4 separate regions of the Homo sapiens genome follow, and all the other regions are linked to region 2. The links come from fine-mapping of genetic effects on gene expression. A gene starts in region 2. Each other region holds a variant in brackets. All regions are shown on one strand. Distances are between the middles of the regions.

The links. PIP is the estimated chance that this variant, and not a neighbour inherited with it, causes the effect.
Region 1: its variant is the best candidate, but not a certain one, in a credible set for the expression of VWDE in lung (TOPMed, PIP 0.87).
Region 3: its variant is the best candidate, but not a certain one, in a credible set for the expression of VWDE in whole blood (TOPMed, PIP 0.65).
Region 4: its variant is the best candidate, but not a certain one, in a credible set for the expression of VWDE in atrial appendage (GTEx, PIP 0.76).

What each region holds. Positions count from the first base shown.
Region 1 is chr7:12,313,936-12,321,566 of GRCh38, forward strand. No RefSeq gene overlaps it. Among named protein-coding and RNA genes, the nearest start is that of VWDE, 86 kb to the right of the region's middle. The variant A/G (reference allele first, on the strand shown) is at 3,459.
Region 2 is chr7:12,401,614-12,409,022 of GRCh38, forward strand. VWDE (von Willebrand factor D and EGF domains) reads right to left here and starts at 2,252. Exons shown (of 29, transcript NM_001135924.3): 1 at 2,046-2,252. The coding sequence starts at 2,103. It overlaps LOC105375154 (a long non-coding RNA gene), which reads left to right and starts at 4,525. Exons shown (of 3, transcript XR_927035.4): 1 at 4,525-5,716; 2 at 5,925-6,043; 3 at 6,203-6,813. RefSeq lists enhancers at 1,540-2,107, 2,108-2,673 and silencers at 1,810-2,104, 1,998-2,047, 2,985-3,174.
Region 3 is chr7:12,084,144-12,091,774 of GRCh38, forward strand. All of the region lies in intron 1 of LOC124901589 (a long non-coding RNA gene), which reads right to left. Among named protein-coding and RNA genes, the nearest start is that of TMEM106B, 120 kb to the right of the region's middle. The variant T/A (reference allele first, on the strand shown) is at 3,229.
Region 4 is chr7:12,295,569-12,303,199 of GRCh38, forward strand. No RefSeq gene overlaps it. Among named protein-coding and RNA genes, the nearest start is that of TMEM106B, 88 kb to the left of the region's middle. The variant T/C (reference allele first, on the strand shown) is at 4,024.

The DNA.
Region 1 (7,631 bases), 88 kb before region 2:
GAATCATATATTTGAAATGAAGATCAACAGTGATTTACATTTAGTTTCTTAGTTATGAGAATTTCAAGGGTAATAACCAAAAGCCAGTTAAAGAAAAAAGATGAACCAAGAATCAAACAAACGTAACATCTCTATCAATCCAAAATAAAGCAAGAAAGGAGAAAAAAATAGCAAAAGAAAAGCAACACAAAACAAAATGTTGCAAATAAGTCAAAATGTATTTTTAACCACAATAATTTAATTATTTTCAGTTGAAATATAGAATGCTCAGAATACAATAACCCAAAGTAAGGTGTGTTGGTGTGCTAAGCACATTGAACAGAAAGGCTTCAGAAGGACCTCAGAAGGAAGGTCTCTCTGACCTTCTCCCATCCTCCTATCTCCAGCCCATCTTCATTCACCTGAGCAATTCATAGAAATCAGACTTCCTTTTCTTCAAAGTGAATCATTGAAACTAGAACTCTTCTCCCCACACACAAACCATAAAACCCAGAAGGGTCATTCACACTTCTCATTTCTCCCTTGAAGATCCTCATTTCAGAGGAGTGCTGTCCAATACTCAGAAGAAATGCTACACAGAGAGCTTAAGAATCTGAACAGACAGGACTTGTTGAGTTTCCCCCTTCAGTTACCATTAGATTATACCCTTTTATATTAGATGAAACCCTTTTATCCAGTTACATTTCTACATGCCTGTTCATTTTTCATGGAACCTAAATATAAAAATAGACAGTTGTCCTTGGGTCTTTGGGTCTTCATTTCTGAAGTCTCCTGTGTCATGTAAAACTTTGATTAAATAAAGTTATTATGCTTTTCTCTTGTTAACCTGTCTGGTTATAGGAATATTGGCTGTGACTTTTATGATTGGTAAGGATAGGTATTATATCTTTCCACCCTAGTATTTACAAAGGAATTTCAGGTTGAAATTGAATTTATGTGGTACACATAAAACCTAAGATAGACAGGCTGAAAGTACAGTAGAAAAAGATTAGAAAAATATTTTATTTAAAAAACAGGGTAGCTATAGCAATATCAATCAAAATAACCTTTAAGCAAAAGTATTATTAGGAATAAAGAGGTCAGAACATTTATTGATTTAGAAACAGCTATACAATGTTAAATGCATGCCAACCATTGTTGTAGGCACACAAGCAGGCTTATAAGTATTAACTTATTTAGTTCTCATTTCAATTTTATTAGGTAGGTATTATTTCTATTTACCTTTCCATCTTTTCAAACAAGGCAATGGATGAAGGAAGCTTAAGCAATTTGCTCAGTCACACAGTCAATGAGGAGAGAAATCTGGACTCAATCCAGAAAGCAATCTGGCTCCAGGGTCCTTGAACTTAACCACTATGCAATGCTGTCTAAGAGGCTTAGCTAGCATACTATAAACTTGTATGCACCCAATTTAATGGCCTCAAGCATAGAAAGAAAAATTTGATAAAACTACAGGGAAAAGTAGACAAATATAAAATAATAAAGACATAGTTCAACATATTTTAAATTACTACAAGCTTAGGCAAGCAAAAAATTTGCAGGATAAAGAATTAAAGAAGTCCTAACCAGAGGAATCCAACAAGAGAAAGAAAGAGCATGCAAATTAGAAAGAAGTCAAATTATTTTTTGCAGATAATATGATCTTATATTTTAAACCCAAAGACTCCATTAAAAAAAATACTATTAGAACTGTTAAACAAATTCAGTAATGTTGCAGGATACAAAAATTAACATAAAAATCTGTAGTACCTCTATATGCCAACAGTGAACAATCTGAAATAGAAATTAAGAAAGTAGTCATATTTATAATGTTATAAATAAAATACCTAGAAATAAACTTAACCAAAGAAGTGAAAGCGCTCTATATTGAAAACTATAAAACACCGATGAACAAAATCAAAGAGAACACCAAAAAAGGGGAAAGATATTCCATGGATTAGAAGAATCAATACTGTTAAAATGTCCCTACTACCACAAACAAGTTATAGATTCAATGCAATCCCCATCAAAATACCAATGGCATTCTTAAAAAATAGAAAAAATAATTCTAAAATTTATATGGGACCACAATAGACCCAGAATAGTCAAAGCTATTGGCAAACAGGTGTATGAAAATGTGATCAGCATCATCGAGCATCAGAGAAATGCAAATCAAAACTACAATGAGATATCATCTCACCCCAGTTAAAACGCCTTTTATCCAAAAGACAGTCGATAATGAATGCTGATGACAAGGTGAAGAAAAAGGAACCTTTGTATACTGTTGGTAGGAATGTAAATTAATACAACCACTATTGAGAACAGTTTAAGCAGAATAACCATTCCTATGTTTATTATTGTAACACTGTTCACGATAGCCAAGATTAAGAAGCAACCTAAGTCTCCATTAACAGATGAATGAAGAAAATATGGCACATGTACACAATGGAGTACTATTCAGTCTTAACAAATGAGACCCTATCATTTGCAACAACGTGGATGGAACTGGAGGTCATTATGTTAAGTGAAATAAGCCAGGCACAGAAAGATAAACGTTGCATGTTCTCACTTATTTGTAGGAGCTAAAATTCAAAACAATTAAACTTATTGAGACAGAGAGTAGAATGATGGTTACCAGAAACTGGGGAAGGTAATGGGGGTGGGGGGTAGGCAGGGATGTTTATGAGTACAAAACTATAGTTAGATAGTATGAATAAGATCTAGTATTTGATAGCACAACAGAGTACAGTCAACAATTTATCATGCATTTAAAAATAACTAAAAGAATATAATTGGATTGTTTATAACACAAAGAAAGGATAAAAACTTGAGGTGATGGATACCCTATTTACCCTGATATGATTATTACACATTATGAAACCTGTATAAGTCTCTCATGTACCCTATAAACATATACATCTACTATGTACCCACAAAAATTAAAAGAATTAGTGACACAATTTAAAGTTCCAATATAACAGAAATTAATACATTGTGCATCCTTTAAGAGAACTATAAAAGGCAAGGATAATGTATTGGTTATGTACTGCTGATGAACAAATTACTGCAGAAGGTAGTAGCTTAGAACAACACACATTTATTATCTCACAATTCCTCTGGGTCAAGAACTCAGGATTGGTTTAACTGAGTGCCTCTGGCTCAAGATCTCTCATGAGCTTGCAGTGAGGGTGTCGGCTGTGGTCTTTTCTAAGATAAGACCTGGGTATGATCCACTAGAAAGTTACTCATGTGGTTGTTGACCCGATTTTATTCTCTCAGGGCTGTTTAGACTGAGGGCCTCATTTCTCCTGCCTGTTGGCTAGAAGGCTCCCTCAGTCCCTTGCCTTGTGGGCCTTTTATAGGACAACTTCAAACTTACATCATGGCAACTGGTTTTCCGTAGAGCAAGCAAGAGAAAGAGGGAGTGAAAGTGAGAAGGAGAGAGAGAGAGGAAGAAAGAGAGAGAGACGAAAGCTACA[A/G]TTATTTTATAACCTAATATCAGCAGTGGCATTCACTACTTTTGTTTCATTGTATTTGTTAGAAGTGAATCACTTCTAACAAGTCTAGTTCACTCTGTAGGGAAGTAGATTACATAAGGGTGTCAATACTGGAAAGTGGGGGTCATTTAGGACCATCTTAGAGGTTGCCTAGCACAGGTGATTAACATAAAATACAGCAGGATTATAATAAAAGCAAAGAAGTCATCAGTACAATTGTATTGGCTTTGGCATATTTCTGAATTAGATGATTGAATTGTGGGTGTCCATTTTGTTATGCTTTATAAGTTTACAGATATAGTACTCTTTTCTTTTGTATATATAAAAATCACATAATTTTTTCAAAAAATAAGGTAGTCACCATCTTCTAAAATAAAACAAATCTCTAGCTATATGAGACTGACCTCTCGATAACTCCAGTTTTTACTGAAAATTAACCATTGCATTTCATCTGATTTGTGAGTTGTTGGGAAAGTTGCATCATTCCCTGTGCACCTCAAATTACCTATATGAACTGAACAGTGCATTTTAATTCTATCTTTAAAATAAAATGTTCATTAATTCAATTTGAACTCTCAAACTCAGTCCTTTAAAAGTTTCAGAATTTGTACATAAAAGACACTCTACAAACTTACAAGTAGGAAACATTATTTTATGGTATATTTGCTCCCACAAATTTAGGCAAATGTGAGCTTTTTGCTTGAATTATTCAAGTCTAAACTCTGCCATAAATGTAACCTGTAAATATTTAAACTAATGCAAACAAAAGAACTTGGTTTTATCATTTTGATATGTAGTATCTCTCTGCCCCACCACCCCCTTGTCTGGTGTTATCAGAAATACAGTTTGATAACATGAATCAAGCTAATAACATTAGCTTATGACTGATTACCTGTACAGTTTGGCCTGATACAAAAATTCTGCGTAATTAATTTTAATCTTACAATAACACTGGTGGGACTGTAGACCATTTCCCTTAATTTAAATACATAATTTGCAACTTGAATACATCTGCAATAATGAAATGTCAGAATCTTTTACTCTGAAAAGAGCATAACTATAAATACAACTAAAATTTTATACACATAACTTTTTTTATTAATTTTATTGCCCCTCTTGAATTAAGAAAAATAATGCAATGATTCTTTAATTTTCAACTCATATTATTCTTAAAGTCCCTAAATTGGTATTTCCAAAAAGCTGCATTAAGGCTAATTGAAGATTCTGCAAAAGATACATTATGAAACTAAGATAACTATAAAAATGTTAAGTAGTACAAATACATATAAAGTAATATATAAAATCTACTTAAATCACCCCTTACCTCCCAATCCCACTCCCCTGAGGTAACAAATCTTAATTATTTGGTATCAGTCTTTTTATACATTTTCTATAATACTAAAAACTTATGTGTATTCACATATATGTGTGGGGGCCAAAGGCTCTTGGAAGATTCTCTGAAAAATCAACTCACAAAAGGCAGATTTATAGAAGAAAAAGCATACAAATTTATTTAACATGTATACATGGGAGCTTTCAGAAGACTCAAGGATACAGAAGAAATTGTCAATGTTTATGTTTAGGTTATGGATAGCCATGTAGAAACATGATCGGACAAAAAGGGCAAGATATAATGATAATGGGCTGAGTGGGGAAACTCTGGCTGTCTAGATTCTTCTGAGCATGCATTCCCTCCTTGGTGTGAGGAAGAGCCCTCTCTAGAATGGGGGTCTCATGATCTACAGTCAAACAAGGTATGTCAGACAATTTCTTTATGGCCAGTTTTTACACAGAAAGGCAAGGGAAAAATAGAGTAATATTATTAGGTTTTATGACTAGCTTTGGAGAAAAGGGGCTCTGATTTCTGTGACCTGCCTTGGGGAAGAGAGATTCTAGTTTTTATGGCTAGCCTCCAGGGAGAACACGACTGAGAGACAGGGGAACAGGAAAAGGTCAGAAAAAAACTTTTGCTCTGAGGCTGCTGCGGAGGCCTTCATTTTAAAATACTGTTTTCTGAGCCCCATCATATGAAAACATATGCATTTTTAAATTGGAGTATACTATATTTATTGTCTGGAAATATTTCTCTCATCTTTTCATCTAACATAGTCATCTTCATACAATATAAGATATAGCTCTACATTAATGATTGTTTTATTGGCTATATAGAAATCTCATGGCTTGAAATATAATGATATAACTATTTTTCTATTAATGATCACTTAACATTTTATTATTTTATAATTGTTAATTTATCACATATAATTTATTTTTAAATTTTAATATTAAAAACCATGCTACAATAAATGTTTTTGGAGATAGAATTTTACTCTAAGCATTGTCTCTCTTAAATGGCTATTTCTAAATTTCCACTGATCGGTCTCCTTTTATAGCACTGCTCTTAAAGGGGAAATAACTCAAGTTTGGTCCTCAAAGGTTACACATCTTGATTTTAATTTGTATTTGTTAATCTAATTCAATTATTGTTCAATATTAGCTGAAGTATTCAGGCCAACTTCAACTCAAATGAGCAACTTAAAAATAAGAAAAAAGCTAAGAAGGTGGATGTTATGTGTTCTCACCATAAATACAACTATATGAAGTAATGCATTCACTAGTTAGCTAGATTTAACCATTTCACAACATATATATACTACAAATCGTGTTATACATGGCAAATACATATACTTTTATGTCAATTAAAAATAAATTTGAGAAAAAAGAAATAAAGTTGATTGTATAGTTTATCTATTTCAGAACAAAAACTGTAATATGGGAGTTTAAGCATGTTTACTTTCTCTGACAGTTTGGTAGGTATAATAAAAAATTTACCTTGTTTTTTTAAAAAATAAGTAGCAGTCATTTTAATTAATTGCAATGTGGCTTTTAAAAAGAGCTTGAGGCCTAATTAGTTAAAATCTTACATGTGTATTTTCAGCATGAGTGTTCTATTAGAAGCTAAAAACTGGTTACTCATTTATTTTTAACCATGCTCATCATTTTAGTATTCCCTGATGGTGGGGAAATCTAACATTCTTTTTCTAGCAAGTTGTCTCACTGCTGCTTACTAACAGGTACTGGCAGAGCCTGTAATCTGCCTACCCACAAAGGTTAGAAATGAATTTTGGCATTTTGGTGGACACTCAATATTTACCCACTTGGAAGACAACAATAGTGCTCAAAACAATGAGATATATAAATTTCCTTGTTCGGTTTAACGGTGGCTGGAAGATAAGTCACTCAAGCAGTGCTGACAGGTATTACTCTGTCTGAGATCTCTGTTCTCTCATTTGAGAAGAAAAAACAACAAATTCCTTGTCACCCTCTTCCTTTCTAGTGCAAATCTAAGACTGGAAGTTTTTTTGAACATATTATGCATCAGGACTTGATCATTAACTGGAAACTACCTTCTGTCCTCTCTAGTTCATTGCTCCTCTTGGTTCAGCCCTATGGATCTAGAAAAATCTCACCCTTGCTCCACACACAGAGCCAGGCAGACAGCCCAGAGACAACCCTCAAAGTGAGCAATTTAGGTTTTGTTCTGGTAGCACAAAATTCCATTTCCTCTAGTTATTTTTTCTTTTATAGAAATGAAAATAAAATAAAAGTATATTTTTCAAAATATTTGCCTGTGATTTATGTAAGTACCCACATGTTAAACCAAACTCTGTTGCTGCCTTGCAATATTTTCCTGGATTGAACCAGCCAGTATCCTTCAAGTCTTCTATGTAGGCCAATCACTATTAGAAATGAGTGGTCAGAATATATTTGTCTGTAATGTTTAATTTACTTCATCTGTAATGCTGCAGCCGGGGTATTTTATGGCATTACACTGGAAATGGCTTGACTCTTTGATATGGGGAGATAGATCTCAGGTCAAAACCCAAGGAATAATTGATTATTTTCACAAGAAGAGGGTTGAAAACTAATATCCTCCCCTCCTACAGTCCTCAGAAAATATCAGCCAGCAGTGAGAATGCATCATCAGAGAATGCTGATGTAATAGGCAGACAGATCAGGGAGATGAAGTATCACACAGTCACCATCTCCATTAACTAATGTAGGAGGAAGCATCAAAGTTGTCCACAAAAAATAATTGACAGGTCTTGGTGCCTAAAGACACATACACAAGCCGTAAGAATTTCCTTTCATTTA
Region 2 (7,409 bases):
TAGGTAGAATCCAAATCTCAGTTAATAAAAAGTGTTGATGGAAACATGAAGAAGTTAGAAGCTTTACACACTGTTGCAGAAATACAAAACAGCACAGCCACTTTGGAAAACATCCTGGCTGTTCCTTAAGTAGTTAATCACAGAGTTACCCTATGACCCGGTATTTCCACTCCTAGGCATATATCTCGGAGAAATGAAAACATACATCCAAACAAAACTTGTACCTCGGTGCTTTATAGCAACATTATTTATAATAGTCAAAAGGTGGAAACAACTCAAATGTTCATCAACAAATGAATGTACATACAAAATATAGTATATCCACACAATGGAACATTATTCTATCTTAAAAAGGAATGAAATACTGGTACATGCTACAAGATGAATGAACCTTGATAATACTGTGCTAGATGAAGTAAGCCAGTCACAAAAGACAACCTATTATATGATTCAGTTTACATAAAATATCCAGAATAGGCAAATGCAATGAGACAGAAAGTAGATTAGTAATTCCTTATCGCTGGGGAGAAAGGGAGGGTGATAGCCGGCATGCGGCATGATAGCCCAGGGTATAGTATTTCTTTCTGATTGATAAATATGTTCTAAAATTGACTGTGGTCATCGCTGCATATACCTGTAAATATACTCTGAATATACACATATCTGTGAAAATGAAAAACCATAGAGTCGCACACTTTGAGTGATTTGTATGGTATATGAACATCTTAATAAAGCTATTTGAAAAAAAGAAGTCTCAATAAATGCATTTTCCATTTACCTCGTCTTCTAGTTTTACTCCATTAAACATAAAGAACTTGACAATGTTACCAATGTTATGAACTTAAAACCTGGTAATGGGTAATATTTGTCTTCAGCAGAGAGATTACAAAGCTATTATATAGAGGCAAAAAAGGGTTATGCGGTCTATAGTAAACATGAAATCATCTTCCTTTATAAACATTGGTCATTTTTTTCCTGGAAATATTTATCTAACTGTAATGAACAGATATATGTTATTACATGTATTTTTTAAAGTTATTCATAAAGATTTAGTAACGCTGTAAGCAAACCAAAGAAGGACCAGAAAAAATATCATTGCAGAAAATAATAAATTTGATTTTAGTATTTTATTTTTAAGTTTTGTATAGGATAGTGTTTGTATTCCCCTTATACAAAGCAAACTTACATCAGTAAAATGAGTTAAGATCAAAAAATGATAAGACAAAACTATACCCTGGACTGCTATAAATGTTGTACATAATGTTTTTTCAAGCTGCAGATGGTTGAACACAGATCAGACTTTTTCTGAAAAACGTAAGGAAACTTGCAATATAAGAACAAGTCACCTTTCATTAATATTCCTATCTGTATGAACACAAAAAACAAGCAAAAAGGGCTAATGAAAGTAGTTTTGGTTTAACTTCACTGTATTTTAAACTAAATGTTCTTTGTCATGGATTAAAGAAGTAGGAGGGGAGTATTCGCTCCACAGAGATCTCTTTTACAGTGCCAAAACTGATTCTAACATATATATACAAAAACCATAATACAGTATAATACGGATATACAAAACTTAACTTGGTGATTTATTGTAGGGATAAAATGTTCACCAATGAATTATTTCTGAGGGTCCGGTTGGAGGTGGAATTCGTGCAGTATGGAATTCAACTCTGTTCTGAGAATTCAGGTCCACTTGCGGCTAGCATACCTTGCAGATCCGGCGAAAGTTTCTTACAGTAAATTACAATGACCTCAAAGAGCAGGATAACAGCAGGAAACAACCAAAAACAGAACCAAGGGTCGTAGAGTAAGAGGAGGCAACAACCGCATGTGCGCAAAAGAAAAGTGTAGAGTTTTCAAGCTGGAAATTGACCTTTTCAAAGACAGCAGAGGGACAGAGAGGAGGCGGGTGAGGAACAAACATCGCTTGCTGCCTTAAAACGCACAGGGACGCTCCCCAAGTCGTCCAAAAAGTCTAGCCTAGTCCCTCTACCGCCCACGCGGCGCCACTGCGCGCCCACCCCCGCGCGCCCTACCTCGCTTACCTTCCCCCCAGGCCAGGAACATCAGCGCGATCACCAGCACGCAGGCTCCGCCAGGCATCGCTGCTTCCGCAGGTGGGGCGAAAGGCGTCGCAGAGCCCGGGCCGCGGGTGCCAGGAGGATGGGGCCACAGCAGCCCCTCGGGCCTCCTTTCTTGGATTTTCTCAGTCTGTTGCTGCTTGGAACAGGGAAGCTCCGCGTCCTCGTTCTGGGGTGCACCCAGTCCTTTCGTGGGATAGAGCCTTCGCGTAATCCGTCTGCGACTCCTCCCTTCCCATTTTGGCTGCTGGCTGACCTGAAAGCCACGCCCAACCTGTCCCCATAGCCCAGCGTGTACCGGCAGTGGCTCCGCCGCCTTGGATGTCACCGTGCAGTCGCACAGCCAGGAGTCAAGCTACAGGGATGTAGCTCTCCGCCCGCTGCGTCTTGCTGTTCTAACAGAGGCTGTATGAAAACTTGGTAATCCTAGAAACTGCTCAGATGGACCTCGCATAAAAGAAGCCTCACAAGGTTCCGTTGGAAGGGGAAGTTTCCCATGATTGTATCTGCAGACGGATTCCTAACTGCGTAATGGGCGCTACTGGTTTGCACCCCAAGGCGAAGGCGCTGAAAATGCTCCTGTCACCTTAGATCTCAGTGATGAACGACAGGAGGAGGAGTAGACACTAACGTTGCAACAGTAGATGCCTTTTCTTCTGCCTCTGTGACAGGTTTTCAGAAGTGGAAAGGACCGCATTTAGACACTAGCCAAACCATGAGGTTTGTCACCTGTATTTGCCAGTGATTCCCAGAGCTCTTACAGTTGTCCCAGGACGCTTTAGCACATGGCCACACGACTCCCAAGGTTGACCTGGGAGTTATTAGAAGATCAGAGGGCTCTAATGTCTTCCCCCAACCTCGTTTTTGTTTTGTTTTGTTTTGTTCGAGACAAGGTCTCACTCTGTCACCCAGGCTGGAGTGCAGTGGCACAGTCACAGCTCGCTGGAGCCTTGAACTCCTGGCGTCAAGCGATCTTCCCCCTCAGTCTCCCAAAATGCTGGGATTACAGGCGTGAGCCACCGTGCCAGGTCTAAGGTCTTCAGAAGTGTGGTTGCCTCTGCAGAGGAACAGGGTCCTTTTTTCAACTGATTCTACATCTTTTTATGTCTGAAAATGAAACCTCACTGTCCTAGTTTTTCCCTGGCTGTCTCATTCCTTGAGTCTCCCATCCATCACCTTGCACTTGGTTCTCACAGAGCCTTTACCTGAAGAGGATAGTTTGGGGGTCCAAGTGGGCACCAAGGTTCCACCCACAAATTTGGAGGTTCAAGGTTGGCCTAGGCATGGTGGTGGAAACAGGAGGTGTCCAAATGCATAAACAAGTATTTTTTTAATTTCATATAATTCTTTATTTTTAATTTGAAAGGTAAATTACCATTTAAAATTTTAAAGCTTATCATCTCCATAGTAAAAATATTAACCCATATTGGAAATAATTTCTTTTTGGTACACAATACTTGTGTGTAGCCATCTTTCAAATGCAGCAAGGGCACCCAATTTTCTGGATTAAAAATAAAATATTACTTTTTGGTGGACGGTAGACAGGTGATTTTTATCTTAAGGCTTAAGTATGGAAGGGCAATATAATGTAGGCACAATGAAAACCCAGAGATTTCTTAGTGTACAGTTAAGTCTTTTGTTTCCGCTTAAAAAATTCTAATAAAACAGACAAGAAATTAAATGTCAGTTTTCTCAATCTATTTGTGAAATCACCAGGAACAAAGTAATTTGATGTGAATCAAATCATAGCAGGACTTTTGTGAATTTATTTTCTAGCAGTATCTATACAAATGTAGTAAACTTTTATACTTTCTTGGAGGACAACATTACTTATCTGACTTCCATCAAAATACAATTTCAGGTATCGTGGGCCTTATTTTTTTCTTCAGTTTTTGATTGTTTATGAGTTTATGAGTTTACAATAAACTTGTGCCAAAACCCAACTTCCCTCCATGTGACTAAAGATGGAAAAAACTAAAAGCAACTTAAGAATTTTTTTTCAAGTCTCAGTAACCTGGCTTGGATCTGCAAGAATGTATCAATTAAATGCTGGTTATATCACGCCTGTAATCCCAGTGCTTTGGGAGGTCGAGGCAGGCGGATCACCTGAGGTCAGGAGTTCAAGACCAGCCTGGCCAACATGGTGAAACCCCATCTCTACTAAAAATACAAAACATTAGATGGGCGTGGTGGCGTTCGCCTGTAGTCCCATCTACTCGGGAGGCTGAGGCAGGAGAATCGTTTGAGCCCAGGAGGCAGAGGTTGCAGTGAGCCAAGATAGCTCCTCTGTACTCCAGCCTGGGCGACAGAGCAAGATTCCATCTCAAAAAAAAAAAAAAAAAAAAAAAAAATTAGTTATAGAACTGTATGGAAAACAAAAAGTAATGAAAATGTTTTAATCTATGTCTCGTGAAGTTAATCAAAAATTGGTATAAGATTCTTTTTTATATTTTTGAACATTAAAAACAATGGATGCATGGTACCCCGCAATATAGAGACTGACAGCACTTGTAAAATGCAGTAAATATCACTGAGACAAATAATAAGAATGTCAGAGGGAAGAAGAAATGAAGCCAAGTGCTAATAAGTACAATATAGCTTAAATTAAAAGATTAACAGGAGAAAATTTTCAAATGATAATTTTCTAGGAAAAGGAGATAACTCAGTTTTTGTCAGGTTAATTTACAAAGTGATGGGCTTGAGTGAAAAAAAATACCAAATTCAAGGGGCAGAAAAACCCAGTGATTAAGTCCACAAATCCTAGGTTAAAAACACCTGGGCTGTAATTCTAGATCTGCTACCTATTTATCAGAAGTGTAACCTTGAACAGCACACTCAACTCCTCTTAACCTCATTTTTCTGTACAATAGAAATGACAATAATAGTACCCCATAGACTTAAAGAATCAAAAGTGTATGTGCATGCCTGTGTGTGGCTGGGAGCGTGGAAGAGCATCTGGAGAAAGAGCACTCAGAATAGCATTTGGTCCAAAGTAGCTATTATGGTCGAATGTAACAGTTTACTGTTATTAGAACTAGGGTAATATTCTACATAATTATACTTTCTCTTATGTCTTATTATATAAAGGTGCATCATTTCTTGGCACTACTCTATTACAGTGTCTGCACAGTTTGGAGTAACCTTCCTGGAAAATACATATTTATGTAACATATGAATTCCTCATCCCATGTTTTACTAAATGAGTGAGCCCTTTTCCAGAAATGTAAAATTGATAGGATTGCTTCTGGGGTTTACTTGAGCTGAACACAAGTACACTCAGAAGCAGAGGCTAAAACATACAGCAGGTCCTTGGTCATTTTGTTTAACGTTATTTTGTTATAACACTGATGGAAAAAATCGATTTCCAGCAGAGGCCAATGTCTATGTGGAATTGGCACGTTCTTTCCATGTCTATGTGGGTCTTCTCTGGGTACTCCCGTTTCCCTCCACTTCTCAACTCTCTGTGTGTTGGGTGAATTGGCATGTCTACATAGGCCCTGCTTGAGTGATTGTGGTTGGGTATGTGAGCGCGCCCTGCGGTAGGATGGCTTCCTGAAGAGAGCTGGTTTACACCTCATGCCCTGAGCTCCTGGTGTAGGATCTGGCCACCTGTGATCCTGAACTGGAGTAAGGAGGTAAATAATTATCTTGTTTTCATTAATCTTTACTCAATGTATGTATAGTTTATTTTACTGTTTAATATTAGAAGTATTTTGGTCTTTTTTTAGAAGTTGGTGATGTTTTTGTGACCAGAAATATGGTATAGTAATTTAACTCATGTTGATATCAATTTGTCTGTAGTAAAACTGGTTTCATTACATGTTGTTTCACTTTACATCGCAGTTTTCAATAACCTATGGACACCGTTGAGGACTCATTGAATGTGGCTATAAGTGTGGTCAAGTAATGAAAACTGATCAGCTGAGGGAGGAAAAAGACAAAAGTGGATGACCAAAATGAAGGTGAGGTGAGAAACAACATGTGAGAATAGAGAAACAGAGAAAAGCACTCATACACGTCCACACGTGCACACACACACAAAAAGACAGAGAGGAAGAGAGACAGACAGACAGTGACAGAAAGAGAGATATGCTAATTCCTGATGGCTTTCCACTCAACAGCTCCAGAATCTTTCGAGGACTGCCTATGTTTCCTGTTTTGGATTAGGAAAATGTGGCACATATACACCATGGAATACTACACAGCCATAAAAAATGATGAGTTCATGTCCTTTGTAGGGACATGGATGAAACTGGAAACCATCATTCTCAGCGAACTATCGCAAGGATAAAAAACCAAACACCGCATGTTCTCACTCATAGGTGGGAACCGAACAATGAGAACACGTGGACACAGGAAGGGGAACATCACACTCCGGGGACTGTTGTGGGGTGGGGGTAGGGGGGAGGGATAGCCTTAGGAGATATACCTAATGCTAATGATGAGTTAATGGGTGCAGCACACCAACATGGCACATGTATACATATGTAACAAACCTGCACATTGTGCACATGTACCCTAAAACTTAAAGTATAATAATAATAAAATGTAAAAAATTAATTAATTAATTAAAAAATAAACAACAAATTTAAAAAAAAAAAAGAGATACCCCCAATACACTGCCTATAAATTAAGGTTAAGTGACTTTGAATTTGTTTTGCTGTTGTTGTTTATAAACAAAAGAATATTGTCTAAAACCTGTTTGAAAATATAAACTGTATAAATTATTAAATATTTGGTTGTGCTTATGCATTTGCCAGAAGAAACAGAAAAATGCACTTGAGATTTGTATTGAAACCTTACAGTGGTTTGTTTAGGAGGAAATGGACTCATCATTTGACCACATAGAAGCTATCCAATCAAAAAGTTTCAGGGAAAAGTATGGTGTGTTCATTGCAGAATGAAAGAAAATCAGCAGTTAAGCTGATTTTGTTATGACAAGCTCAATATGTTTCACAAGAAGATTATTCAGTGCTAGAAAGTCTAGAATACCATTGGCTTTTCCTTCCAACTAGCCAGATGACCACCTATAAATGATTAATAACTTCATTGTAGACAGTTATAGAGATTGTAACTGAAAATAGCTACAGAAAAGACAAAGATTCAGTGGTACTGAAGCCCAATAAGTAATATTTGCCAAATATACCCCATCTCTAATTCTCATTCATAGGCTGAACTTCCTGTCTTATAGTTTCTTTCCTTTTTCTGCATTTAAAAGTTCCTTCTTTTTAAAAGTGTTGAAAATGAATGAGAAAAAGCTGGATAGGAATGAAGAGAGAACCAATTTTGTTTCATTAAACATAGTAATAAAGAAAAACAGTTGATAGT
Region 3 (7,631 bases), 320 kb before region 2:
ATACAGGCTCTGGCTTTCATTCTCCATCTATAAAAGTGTCATTTTTAATATATGTGTTAGACCACTTGAAAATTTCAATTTTCCAATTGCAGTAGAAATGATTACTGTTAATAATTATATTGCAGTCAAAAGGTTAGCAAAGAGAATGCTAAAATACTGAAATGACCTAAAGATATTATTTAAACTATGGGCAGCTTGTTTTTCTTTTTCATTTATATCTTTCAGCCTTGTTACAGCATTGAAGGAGATAAAGTTGAAAGGTAGCCACTTTACTTGCCTGAATTTATCTAAAACTTCAAAAAATTATATAGCAAGTAAAGAAAATGTCTTAAAAACAATGAAATATAATATTATTTCACCACTTTTCACATAACGGTCTGAAAACATATATATATATAGAGAGAGTTTGTCTATATATATGGTGTTTATATATATGTTTTCAGACATATATACCAATATATATAAATACTCTGGTTTTGTACCTTTGGTGTTTGTATAAATGTGAACACCAAAGATAAAAAAAATAATTCATTCACCACTGAAAATATTAAGTCAGATGTAATAGCAGAGAAGCTCCAAATTAAAGATTATCCAAGGAGAGTGTAGATTTTATTCAATAAGTGAGGCAATTATTCATTTATGTGTTATCATGTTTTTATCATGGATTTAGGTAAAGTGAAGATATCATTAAGTCTCCACATGGATAAAGGAAATAATGCTTAATATATACATTGCCTCTTTTAGACTATATTACATATTCGAATATGACATTTTATATTGCTTTCTATTATTTTATATTTGGAAGTCTTATTTTCCCACCAAGATAATAGTAGCATATTTCATTCTGGAAATTTCCAACTCGCATGTGTTATAATTTAAAAAGCATTTTCTATGTCAGAAGTTTGGAATTAAAAAATAAAATAATTAAACAAATATATCCTGCTTCCCTTCTTTAGAAAGCTAGCACAGAGTAACAACTGGATTTTCTGGGTTCAAGCTGCAGAGTAATATATTCAAGCTATATGAACATGTACAATATACCTAATCTCTCCGTACCCTCATTTCCTCATTTTCTAAAAACACATAATAATATTACCTACTTCACAGCATTGCTATGAGAATCAAATGAGTTAATATATAGAAGGGCTTAAAAAATTCTTGGTACTTAGTAAGCATTTCGTGTTTGCTATTGTTATTCTTGTGGCCATTACTATCAATCTTATCACTGATATTATTTTATTTTACATTCAGGTCTCTTTGTTCGGCATGTATTGCCTACCTTTCTGTACCTGGCAAAGTATTTCTCATTTTTAAAACCTGTCCCGAACTCCTAGAAAGAGTGTCTCTTCTTGGTGTTCCCATAGCACTCTTTGCATGATTTGGTTATTATCAACCAAATGATGTTGAAATTATCTATTTGAGTATCTAAAAGCCCCTTACACACTTCCTACTCCCTCTATTCTACAAGACTATAAGCTCCTCATGGGAAAGGCTCTTTCTTATATGTTCAGTTTGTCTGATGTACAGCTCTGTCACACGTCCCCAAGTCCACTCCAGGTTCAGTGACCCACAAGGAGGGATCACAGGACTTAGCATGTAGTTACTTTCCTGGCTATGATTTATTACAGTGAAAGGATACAAAGCTAAATCAGCAAAGACAAAGGGTGCATGGGGCAAAGACCAGAAAAAAAAAAAAAAAAAAAAAAAAAAAAAAAAAACAGGCACAAGATTCCAAGAGTTCTTTCCCTGTGAAATATTCAGAATATGCTCTTTACCTCCAACACAGAATTGTGACAACACATGTGAAGTGTTGTCTACCAGGGAAACTCATCAGAAATTCAGTGTCTAAGGTTTATACTGGGGTTTGGTCACATAAATACTCTCTGCCCAGTCTTTAGCAAAACTCTAGACTCCTAGAAGGAAAACCAGGTGTTAAACCACATTTTACACAGCTAGGCATACCAAGCCACTTTTTTCATGTAGTTAAAGTTTTATATCATTGTAGGGAACTGTTTACCATTAAAGTTCCCAGATGCTAGTCAAGGACCAATCTTGCAAGCAGGCATGTGTTTTCTGCAAAAGAAACTAGCACATAAAATATATTCAATAACAATTGTGTAAACTGAACTAAATGAGCTATCCAATGAAACAATATTTCCGATGGTAAGTAAAATAAACCCAACTCTCAAAATGTCATATAACTTATAATGTGAAAAAAATGTTAGGTAGTCAAGTACACATTCACCTAATAAACATTTTTGGACACTCAGATACTGTAATATGTATTGTATTAGGTATGAGACTCTTAAAAATCCAAATACATAGAAGTGATATATAGAATGCTGGCTACAGAAGTGCAGGAATGGGGAGATGTTGGTCAAAGGGTACAAAGTTGCAGTTACGCAGGATGTATCTGGAGATTTCATACACAGCACGATGACGATAGTTAATAATATCATTTTGTGTACTGGCAATTTGCTAACAAAGTAGATACTAGGTGCTCTTACCACACACACACACACAAAGGTAACTATGTGAGGAGAGAGATTCGTTAATTTGGTCAACTATAGTAATCATTTTACTAAGTATATGTGTATTCAAAAAATCACGTTGTACACCTTATAGACCATAAAAAAGAAAAAAAGACAAAATAACTGAATCTAATATATAACGTGCTTTTTATATTTTTGCTTGATTTTCAGAAATTGAGGGAAAAAAATACTCTCCACAAAAACAGGCAAACAAAATCCTGAAATGGGTCAAAAGCTACGAGTTGGAAGCAAATATAAAAGCTGGGTTTGGCTTGGGGGTTAATCGCAGTATTAGCACTGGGACTGGAGCTCTGCTCTGGCCTTGCTACAAAGTAGGAGAGCTACATGGGAGCTGGTTGAGGATGAGGGGTCAGAATAAAAAAAGCCTTCTGTAAGCATGTACACTCTAAGCATTTTCTCTCCTCTCCCACTCTAAGCATGTACAGACCTCCTTAACATTTCCTTATCTCAGATACTTTTTGCTGGGTATAAAACAAAAGTTATTTTAAGTCAAGTTTCCTTCTGTGTTTTTGTTTTTTGTTTTTTTTTTGTAAAAGTTTAAAATGAAGAAAAAGATAAGTCTAGGTATCTTTAGTCACAGTAAAAAAAAGGAAGAGTGTTTTTAAGAGCAGTTAAAGGGAACCCCAGCAAGCAATGTGGACTAGTGGAACAGAACCACGCATACAGTCAAATCAAA[T/A]GAACTAAGAAGCAACATCCTGACTAGCCAAGAATTATAATGGCATCTCATTATATTATATGATATGTTCACACGTAGAGTGCTGCTGACTGGCAGAGCAATGACCAGATACCTTGGATAAGACCAAGATATCAGGCTGATCTTTACTGAAGGTGTAATATGGCTAAATATCAGCAATTTTATAGAACCTTATCTATTAAACATGGATTAATGTGAAGTAATAATCTTAAAACTTAACACATACAGTTGATATCGCAGCATTTATTCATGTGATAATAAAGATTTTGGTACTGAATAGACATGGACATACTATATTGGACTATGTGTATGTATCAGCACACACACATGTGTACAGGGATTGGTAAAGATGGTGGGAACAGAGAAATTAAAAAGAAATAAGAACAAAAAAAGGAATAGGCAAACTCCTGGTCTTGAACATAAAAATCCTGTTATATGGACAGTGCTTTGGAGTGGGGCAGAGAAAGAGTGACATTTTTATCAAGTGTTCTTGTAAAACATTGCAGTACTCCCCAATTTGTAATCTCCATCCACACTCACCATTCTGAGAATAAATCAGCCACATCAATGAGGCAGCATTTGGTCTTTAATGTGAATGCCACATTTTCTAGCATTTCTATCTATATGTAGATATATAATGGAGATGATGAAATTCTTAATTTCTTAGTCTTGAAAGATAAAAATTGAAGGAGGTCAGATTATAATATTTAATGAGTACCTTTATGAGCCAGACATTGTTCTAAAATTTTATATATTTTATTTCACTTAATGAGCAGATAGCTGCTCATTGGGATAATTTGTTAACATTAAAAATGTGGTAAAGAATTAAGGCTGGAAGTATCAAATATGAAATAATACAAAAAGCTGTATATTTTTCACTCCTTAAATTAATTCAATTTATGTTGTGGTACCTAGCTAATATGCATATAATGACTTTTTCTGGTCAATGTAAACACTAATTTGTCTGAGAGACTAGTATTGATTGATGCAGAGCTATTATCAATATTGGAATTTGAGGGTCAGTTATTTTTGAAATGTATAACATTATTGACTGCATAGAGGTTATAACTTACAAAACACACAATATGGTAGAAAAAGATACATTTCAATATAAATCATTTGCCATTTCAAAGTTCCATTAATATAGGAAAACATAACTCTCAACTTAGTCATTTCAGAGACATTTTTAAAACAATCTCTAGATTTTACCATGAACTTTTATCCTCAGAGCTTTCTGCACAGTGTGGGTGTTGGCAGGAGGTCTACAGGGGCAGGGTGGGGAGAGGACTAGGGAACCATATTCCACCTTTTTCTTTACCATGATACTCACTGTGAACACAATCTCACTGTGGCCTGTATCTCCAGAGTGGTAAGAGGAACAAACAGGAAACACAGAAATAGAAAAGTAGACAGGGTACTGGAATGTAACTCTTCAGAATAATTTGTTCCAAACTCAAAGAAGGTAATTTAAACCAGCAAAACATCAGGAGCACCTCCAACCATAGGTTCAGGAATTGCACAGAACCCCCTTAGCATTAAGGGTTCCCATTTAGGCCCCTTCTGTGAGGGATGAGTGAGGGAACCATGAACCCTACGACCTGACCAGAACACATGACCCATTAAGTCTGTCGGGGATGGTTTCTTTCTAGAATGGGGTGTGTGTGCTTGCTGACAGCTCTTATTTTCTTCCAATGTGCAGGATTAAATATCCTGATCAGCAAAAGGTATTCCTGGTCCCCTTTGCTATGGTTCACTCTATAGCCAATACTTCTGAAAATAGTTTGTCCGTTTAGATTCCAGTGTACTGTGTTTGTGTTTTTTTAGAATTTTCAAGCCAGTGTGCTAAGGGTCACACAAACGATAACCATGGGAAGGAAATTGTATTAACCTTCATTTCTGCTTTATGTGAAAATGATTGAGACTGGTACAATTTCTGTAACTGTTAGACACAGATTAGGATTTGGCATTTGTTTTGTGAGCTATTATTATTTTAGAAATACTAAAATACATACATTCATTGAGTGCACTTTATGGATATATTAACTCATTGAATCCTCTTTTCTACTCTGTGAGGTATATGATACTATTATTATTTATTTATTTAATTTATTTATTTTTCAAGATGGAGTCTTGCTCTGTCACCTGGGTTGGTGTGCAATGGCGCGATCTTGACTCACTGAAACCTCTGCCTCCCAGGTTCAAGCGATTCTCCTGCCTCAGCCTCTTGAGTACCGGGTGCCCACCACCACACCAGGCTATTTTTTTGTATTTTTAGTAGAGACGGGGTTTCACCAGGTTAGCCAGGCTGGTCTCGAACTCCCGGCCTTGTGATCTGCCCACCTCAGCTTCCCAAAGTGCTAGGATTACAGGCGTGAGCCACCGCAACCAGCCCTATTATTTATTTTTATAGATTAAAAAACTATGTCACAGAATTTAAGAAATCTACCCAATATAAAGTAGCTAACAAATGACAAAAAGGAATTCACATCCACTCAGCCTGGCCTTCTGGTTCTGTGTTTGTGGGCATGCCACACCTCCTTTACTGAGTTACTATTCTGTTGTTTGGTGCTTGCCTAAGTTTTTCTAGGTTATCAGTTGTTAGAAGACAAACAATTTGTAAGGTACATGGATGTGCTTTGGTCAAGAATTAGGCCAAGGCAGACATCCAGGCCTGCATTACTTAGCGAGTTTAGGGTGCAGGCACATACTCCATTTGTTATGTAACCTGTTTGTTTAAGCTCATACTTGGCTCTCAGCCACTATTGTCTGTAGAAGGTATAACTGCCCTGCTGACACTGTACAGGATCTTGGGCATGGCTTGACATGGCGCTGGCACCCAGAGAAAGAGAGAGAGAGAATCAGAGCTGTCTGTCTTGCAGACGGACAGAGGACAGCTATTGCATGGCTCGTGCTGGTGCCCAGAGAGAGAAAGAGTTAAGCTGCTGACCCTGAAGGCAAGGGAGAGCCTGCTATGCAGCTGCCGGAAGGGCAGGAGCTGCAGAGCCAGAGCAGACAGCTGAGATAAAGGTGGACAGTGTTAGAGAGCTAATGTGAGTAAGCTGCTACTGAGAGACCTGCTAAATAAAACTACATTTCACCTGCCTATGGCGCCCCCGGAGTGTTCTTTCAGCTATCCACCCACTCCCCTTGGACCTCAGCTGGGGCTGGAACCTGACAATTGGCATTGTCAGCAGGATAAGGTGAGTGGGTCTTCAGCCCCTGAGGGCTCCTGGGTTGGCTCTGTGGCCGCAGCATGGACTGTGGTACCCAGTGGCAGCCATGCTGCGAGGAGGATGGGATCTGATGGAAACATGGGAGGCAGTGGATGGGTCTCCTGTGAGTATGAAGAGGGCACTGAAGTACCTGGAAGTGCACAGCACCAATGAGGAACATGCCTTTGCCAGCAGAGTCAGACGGGCATTTGTAACTGTGCTGCGGGAGGTGCATGCCCAGTTCCTGCAGGATGCCAGGCAGGGAGGAGGCTCCTCTGCTGCGGGCTCACCCTGTGATCCATCAGAAGGCAGAACATGAGCAGCCAATGGGACCCCAGGGGAGAGCCCAGGGCCCCCCCACAGTGGTGGAACACAGCTCTTATAGTGCTTATACCCCCACTGAGTTGCAGGAGTTAAGCAAGTAATCTCGGCAGTCATGTGCAGACTTAGTGTAAGTCACATGGGAGAAGGACATTGCTGCGCAACCCAGTCCTGCCCAAGCATTCCAGTTCACAGACTGCCTGCTGCAGTTAGGTGGAAGTGTAAAGCCTTTTCTGTTTGATAAGAGACTGACCAAGATGCCTGGCTTAGGGGGGCACTGGATGACCAAAGACCATATGTGGACTTGGCAATCTACTGGACTCTGAACCCGGATAAGTTTCTGGGCAGAGCTGCAGTTATTGATGGTTATGAAGACTGGTCAGTGAAAGCGAAACCTGTATCTTTGCATCTTGGTATCTGCTGCTTGGTTTTCCGCTCATGAACTGTGTATGTCTCTCCCATGCCTGAGGACATTCTGGCTGGGGATGTTTTACACGGCTTGGCAGCTGTACCATCTGTCACAGACTTGCTGGACTGCTTAACAATGGAACTGGGATTCTTGTCCAGAGAACCAGGAATAGTTTGCCTTCATTGGAGGGTGACAATGGACTTTCACAGTGTTGCTACAGGGCAATATGCATAGCCCCACTCTATGTCATAGTCTTGTTGATGATGTTATGTTAACTTCTGATTCTCTTGCAGATTTAAAAGTGGCAACGCCCCTCTTGCCTTAGATTTGGATAAGACTGAGGCAGCCTTTTCCAATAGCCAAGCAGGCTATTCAGCAGGCTCAAGCCCTGCAGGTAGTTAACCAGGGGCTCCCATTTAAACTTGATGTACATGAAATTACAG
Region 4 (7,631 bases), 110 kb before region 2:
TCTAACTGCTGTTTTCCCAAAACAATGCCCCTGTCAGCATGAAGCAGTTAGACCTGTCACCATCCCTGTAATAATGTCAGTTAGACGTACCTCTTCAGAGGGGGGATTGATAGTGACAGTAAACAGTCAAATTCCTAGCCAGAAAGGGTCGTGTCCCCAGTGAAACCTGACCTTAGAGCCAAGGACAGTCTAAAGCCTGAAAACTGAGCTTCCTGTTCCAGGTAGAGTTCACAACCAGAGTGAGGACTTCCTTGATGCCCTTTAGCCAATTGAATGCTGCTTCTTCCAGGCCCACCCATGGATCAATCAGCATGCACTTTCTCATAAAAGCCTTGGACTCAGCCTCACAGGTGGCAACCCACTTTTTGTTCCCTTCTCACACAGAGGGCTACCCACTTCTGGGCCCCTCTCATGTCGAGAGCTTTTCTGTCACTCAATAAAATTATCTGCCTTGCTCACTCTCCAGTGTCCACGTACTTCATTCCTCTTCATCACGGGACAAGAACCTAGAATCCACTGAACAGTGGGTGCGAAAAGAGCTGTAACATACACTCCTGCTTGCTGAGCTACGGGAGTGAAAAAACCGCTGAGTGCCACATGCCCTCATTCTCCAACCTGCAGTGGCAAATCCAAATGAGCTGTGACATGTCCCCCTTTACTGAGCTGTGAGCAGTGGGACTGAATGTGCTGTGACATGCCCGTTTGCCAAGCTGCAGGAATGAGAGACAGCTGTAACACTTCTTGGGGCCTTGGACCTTGGAGCTTGGGAGTCCCTGGGCAAGATCTGTAGCATTCCTCAGGGCTGTGCAGTTGCTGGCATCTTTGAGATTTCAGTTGCTACTGCATTCCCCTCATCCAGATGCTGGTGCCCAAGGTGGAAGCTGGTGGTGGTATGACCGTTCCAGCTGCAGGCTGAGTGTGGATCCCATGGCAGGTGTGGGATCTGGGGCGGGGAACAAACCAAGTGCAGCCTGCTAGGCTGAGTGGGCAGAGTGAGCCTGGTGGGTCCAAGCAAGGCCCAAGGCAGAGGTCATGGTGGCCACAGAGATTTCCAGCTGGCAAAAGCAGCACTGAAAGAATCCTGTAACACTAATGTCAGCAAGGGTTGCATTATGAGTCTCAACATACATGCATTCCAGAGATGAATAGAAATTCTGGTTACTTATAAATTCTTGAGAAAGAAGCCTGGTACCAGCTGCTGGCTTTAGATAATAGGGAAGTCTAATTACTTCTAAATTTTTCAGATAAGGAGTTTGACTTTGGATGGTCTGCTTGATGGGCACTAGGCGATTTTTGTCCTCCTAAATTTGAGTAATAAAACTAATTTGGCCTTCAGTACAGCTAGCTCTGAGTGAATTAAACTCATTCTCTATTGCAATTTTCTGGTCTTGATAAATCAGCTGTGTCTAGGCAGTGGGCAAGGAGAACCCGTTGGATAGTTACAAAACCAATACCCCAAAATATGATGTTTTGGCATGTTGAACTGAAGAAACCTCAAGGCCTCTCTGACCTCCCCCATTATTTAATCAATCTGCCCCATGTTAGTGATATTCAGTGAAACTTCAGGGGGCCAAAGGCCATGGCCCCCACAAAAGCAAAGCTTCATTTAAACACTATCTTTTCAAAAGAAATACATTGGTGCTGTAGCCAATAATACCCTGAATTTAAAGTTTCTCCTTAAATTTAAAACTTCTAAGACAAGCTTAATTTACCAACTCCAAAACATAGGTACTAAAACTTTTTAGTCTCTTGGATTGTTAGAGTCCAGATCTTAACTGGATTTTTTTTTCTTTCCCGATTTAAATGTTCTACAATTTAATAGCTGAACTATGTTTTATATGTGATGAAATATTGATGATAATTTAAGACACCTTCAACCTAAGAACTAGAAACATGACTATTAAACAATTGTCACATCAGCATTTATGATTTTATTTCTGGTCATTTTATTTATTTAAAAGCACAGTGAGGTCAGAAGGAAAGCTCAAGAATGGGGAGCAGGGTACAGTGGATTTTGGAGTGTGAAGGAAATAAAAAATTTTACCCCAAAATATATTAATTTGGCATATTTTTAAGTGGCCCTGCAAAGCTGTCTTCTGTGGGGGAAATTTGCATTTGTAGATGTGCAGAGAATCTACATTAATGCAGCCAGCCCGTCTCTTATTCAGATTAACTGAGAAAGATTAACTGAGTCTGAAACATTCAAAAGTCTGAAAAAGACTCTTACCATCTATTCTCTCCAAGGGCTGCTGCCTGTGAAGCAAAGCTTCATCTATATAACAACGCCACCTTTACTAGCTAAGCTTCCTGTTTCCTCCCTCCCAGAATCTGTCTTGCCACTAAGACCTGATTTACCAGCATAACCTGTTTTGGGTCATGTTCTGAGCCCACATTCCTTCTGCAACCTCAAGATGATGCATAAGCATCTGTACCACACTGGGGGTAAAATCTTCATTCTGAAGTCTCCTATGCATACATATTACATAAATTTATATGCCCTTTTTTTTTATTATTAATCTGCCCTTTGCAAGTTGGTTTTTTTCAGCAAACCTCCAGAGGGCCAAGGGTGAAGCCATCTTTACAAAAATTATAACGGAGGAAATTATGACAATGAAAGAGATCAGACCTAACCAACTCCATCTTGCTTCTAACCTTTAAGCTGTCCTTGTTCGTTCCTGGGCATAGGCTGAACTAACCTTTAACTCTGAAACAAAAATGATACTAGCCCTTTCTTTAAAAAAAAAAAAAAAAAAAAAAAAAAAAAAAAAAACCTTCTTGTCTGAGGACCAGTCTGCCTTTGTAGGACTAATAAATTAGCTACAAGATTAGAAATTAAGGTTTAGGGGTCACGCAGCCTCCAGCTACAACAGTCTGAACATCCCCAAATTGCCCCTGGGAACAACATCACTATTGTAAATCCTAAGATCAGTGCTTGAGATATTTTGCAGACCCTGCACTTGATGGATCACCTGACACCACCCAGAAGGGTAATGTAGTTCATCCAGTTCTATGATCCCACCCTGGGACAGAAGACAGCAAGGAAAACTCACTTCGACCCCTATAATTCTATCTCCAGCCTGAGCAGTTGGCATGCCCCACTTCCTGAGCCCCTACCCGCCAAATTATCCTTAAAAACTCTGATTCCCTAGTGCTTGGGGAGACCAATTTGAATAGTAATAAAACTCTGGTCTCCCACACAGCCAGCTCTGCGTGAACTACTCTTTCTCCATTACAATTCCCCTGTCTTGATAAATCAGCTCTGTCTAGGCACTGGGCAAAGTGAACCTGTTGGGTGGTTATAAGGGTTCCCCTTGGTCCCTACAGTTGGAAAAATTGACCTAGTTATTTGCCATTTCTCATCAAAATGATTGTTAAGTAAAATTTATAGAAAGCTATTATTTGAACTGGGCTTCTGCACTACGCCCAACAGGCCAAACCAAAATGAAGTTACTTATGCCAAAATGAAGTTATTTATGCCGAAGTTCAAAGCCACCAAGCCAAAACTAAGTTGTTTATCAGATCTTTCAAGAAATCAGGAGAGAGATTATAGCTGCAGGGGACAGGGGAAAACCTTCCCTTCACCCTCTGAAGTTTCACTGAAAAGTCAACTTACAAAAAACAAATTGAAGAAAAAGCATACAGATTTGTTAGCAATCATACAAGGGAGAACTACAATGTAATTACCCTACCCTGGAATGGTGTTCAGATGTTTTTATAACATCTTGAGGTTACAGAAAGAATAAGGGCTTGGATTGCTCGCAAAACAGGTTAAGGTGGTGATACAGTTTGGCTCTATGTCCCCACCCAAATCTCATCTTGTAGCTTCCATAATTCCCATGTGTTGTGGGAAGGACTTGGTGGGAGATAATTGAATTATGAGGGTGGGTCTTTCCCATGCTATTCTCATGATAGTGGATAAATCTCACAAGATCTGATGGTTTTAAAAATGGGAGCTTTCCTGCACAAGCTCTCTTTCTCTTTGCCTGCTGCTATCCATGTAAGACGTGACTTGCTCCTCTTTGC[T/C]GTCTGCCATTATTGTGAGGCCTCCCCAGTCACGTGGAACTGTAAGATGATTAAAAATCTTTTTCTTCCCAGTCTCGGGTATGTCTTTAACAGCAGCATGCAAATGGACTAATACAGGTGGTAAAGCAGGATATGAGAGGGGGAGAAGAGGAGGCCTGTCTAACAAAGATAGTCTTGCTATGTAAATGAAACCTACCCTCTCTGAGGATAGCAGCCCTCAGAGAGAATAGATAGTAAATGCTTTTAAAAACCTTTAAAGGTGTTGAACTCTCAGTTAATTTTTCCTTGATCCAGACAAGGAGAGGCCTCAGAGAAAACCTGGGCTCACTAATGTAGATATTCTACAGATGCAAATCTCTCCTACAAAAGATAACCCTTCAGGGTTATGTCAGTTTGCTCTCTCTCTGAACAGCCATCTCAAAATATGTCAAAGAAATCTATTTTGGGGTAAAATATTTTTATTTCCATCATAGCAGAATCTCCAAACAGGCCAGTTTTAGCCAGCATGATAAGGAAGTAACCTTTACAAGGAAAGCAATTTCAAAACACCAATTGTCTTTTTGTTCTCTGTTTCTGCTATCTTTAGCACTTTTCTGTCTATAAAGCCAAATAACTTTGCTCAGTTCATCAGGACATTCATTTTATTTTATCGAATAATGTGTTGTCTGATTCTAAAATTGCAAATAAAAGCCAATTAGGATATTTAAACTAAGTTTATTGTAATTTTGTCTTTTGACAGTATCTGGTTACCAGAAGAAGGGGACCCAAAATGCTGCTGAAAATTTATGAGACTTATTGAGGAACACAGGAGAGCCTCCATTGACCCCTTCATGGATCCCCTTTCTTCCTTATGGACCGCTACATGCTGCAACTTCATTTTGGATCAGACTCTGTTCTTCTTGCATTGAGTGTTCCCCCAACCCAGATCTTTTTGGCCTTTGAATCCAGGCTTAGATTGTGCTGTAAAAGAGAGTACCAACCTTGGGGTGTGTGGTTGACAAGTCACCGATAAGAGTGAAAGTCACAACAGAAACAGGATTGGGTTCTGTAGGGAGGCCTCAGGTGTTTGACTAAGTCAGGCAGAAACTAGCAGTAAATGGCAATTACCGCCGGAAGTATGAACTTTGGCTTTTGAAAGTTTTCAGAAATGTGTTTTTTTCTTGCATGCTTAGGTAGAGAAAAATTATTAGCTATGTTGGTCAAGGCAATCTCAGAGCCAAAGACACAAACTTGACTGGTGGGCATGCTAGTGGCAGCAAATTTGTGCAGGTCTGGAGCAACCTCAATTCTTGCTTCATCAGAAGAAAGAATTCAACTGAAGGGGCATAAGGCAGAAAAAGAGACTGAGGCAACTTTCAGAGCAGGAGTGCAAGTTTATTAAAAAGCTTTAGAGCAGGAAAGAAAGGAAAGTACATTTGGAAGAGATTCAAGTGGGCAGTGTGAAGGCAAGTTCCCCATTTAAACTTGATCCTAAGACTTTTATGTGCTGGCCCACTTCTGACCTCTTGCATCCCTTTCCCTACATTCTTTCTGAAGGGTGAGCTGCCCACATGTGCAGTGCCCTCCTTATGCTTGGGAGGTGAGCATGCACAGTGTGTTTAGGAAGTTATATGCATGCCCACCTGGGTTTTCCCTTTTCTGGTGGAATGCCCCCAGAAAGCCATACTCTGCTATTTTGTCTCTTAATGCGCATGCCTGAGCTCACTTGGCCAATTCCTGAGATTTTATTGGAAGCTGATTACCAATGTCAAGTGTTTTTATCTGTTTGGGAAATTGCTTCTCCCTGCTGCCTGCAATTAATTATCACTTTAGTTTGAAAACTGTCAACCATCAGGAAGTTGCTTCTCCCTGGCACTGGCTGCCAATTATCATTTTTAGAGAGCTACTGTGATAGCTGCTGAATGGTCACCTGATGATTGCCTGACGTTCCTGGTGGGGATAGGGGTGGGGGTGGGTGGAACCGTCTCCTGCCACGCTCATACCTGACTAATTACCAGTAACAGGCATGGAATAGGCACCTAAGAGGTATTGGAGCAGTCACCACCAAAATAAGACTCCCATGGTCACAAAAATGGGTTAGTTGATGTAGGTCACCCATCAGCTTCAAGAAAACTTTGCGCAATGAGGTACTCTGTGAAAGTATTAGAATACACAATGCTCTGGTCTTTTCATCATAGGATTTTATCTCTGCTCTGATTGACCCAAGGGCCAGAATAAAAACAAGATCCTTAATTTCTAAAGAACTGACCACTCCACTTTCCAGCTATGCCTGCTTTTTATACGTATAAATATTAGGCACTGGTAGCCTCAAATTTTTAAAGGCAAAATCTTTTTTAAGATAATGGAGAATTACAATGGCCATTATATAGAACCTCCCAGATGAAGAATACTGTACTTTAAAAAGTGCACTTAAAAATGAGGGGTACCAAATTAGGCTTACCCAGGGATTCCTATTGATGTGTGGAAGCCTCTAGAAAGATTTCAGTACAATTTTTATTGCATCTTTTAAAAGACTTGTTTACAAAAGGCAATTAAAAAGCTTAAGAGACTAATTGATTTAAAAAATTGAATCTGTCAACCTTTAGCATAGTTACTATTCCTCCCTAAAGGAATAAAGAAAGCTAAATAAAAAGTAATTTTGGCCCTCATGTAAAGAAGGTTTTCTTCCTTTTCAGAGTTATCCATGTGGAGTCCAGGCATAGAAAATGCTTGTTTGCCCTATTCATTAATGGAGCCCACCCTAAATAAACTGAGTAATCTAGAATCTAAGTTCTGGATTACTGAATCTAGAATTTAGAATTCTGTTTTAAAAGCAGAAGATTCTGTTTCCTAAAACAGAAACTGTTAGAGTAGGTAGCTAGGCAGACATGTGCAGGGCAAGAGAGGCCTTCCCCTGACAGGAATGTCAGGGGGCCATCAGGTGATCAGACAGCTTGTTCAACTGTCTTTCTAAAATAATAATTGGTCGCACCTGGTGCCAGGAAAGGGCAGTCTCACAATAGAAAACACCTGAACCTGGTGAGCAGCAGCTTCCTGGTAAGATCTTAGGAGTTGGGTAAGTGGGCTCAAGTATCCACACTAAGAGGCAAAATGGTAGAGTTTAACTGCTACATGACCTTCCTCTAGGAACCCTCAGCTGGTAAAGGAAAACCACCTCAAATGAGCATACGCACAACTTCAGGAAACACTGTGCATGCTGCCCCTCCCAAGTGCTAGCAGGCAACTGTGCACATGGACAACCCAGCCCAAGGTAGAATCAAGGGAGAAGAAACAAACCCTGGAACCATGCCAATGTATAAAACCCCCAAGTCAAGGGTTGGACAAGGCACTTGGATCACTTAAATTGACCGCTTGGCCCTTTTCCAAGGGCACTTCATATCCTTTTGTTTCTGCTCTAAAACTTTTTAGTAAACTTTCATTCCTGCTCCAAAACTTGTCTTGGTTTCTCCCTCTACCTTAGGCCCCTCAGTTGAATTCTTTCCTCCAAGGAGGCAAGAATCCAGTTGCTACACATGCATATGTATTTGCTGCAACTAACATACTTTGGTGTTGTGACTCAGATACGTTACCTAGTTGTAAGATCTCTCTCTGCCTTGCCTCCTTTGCCT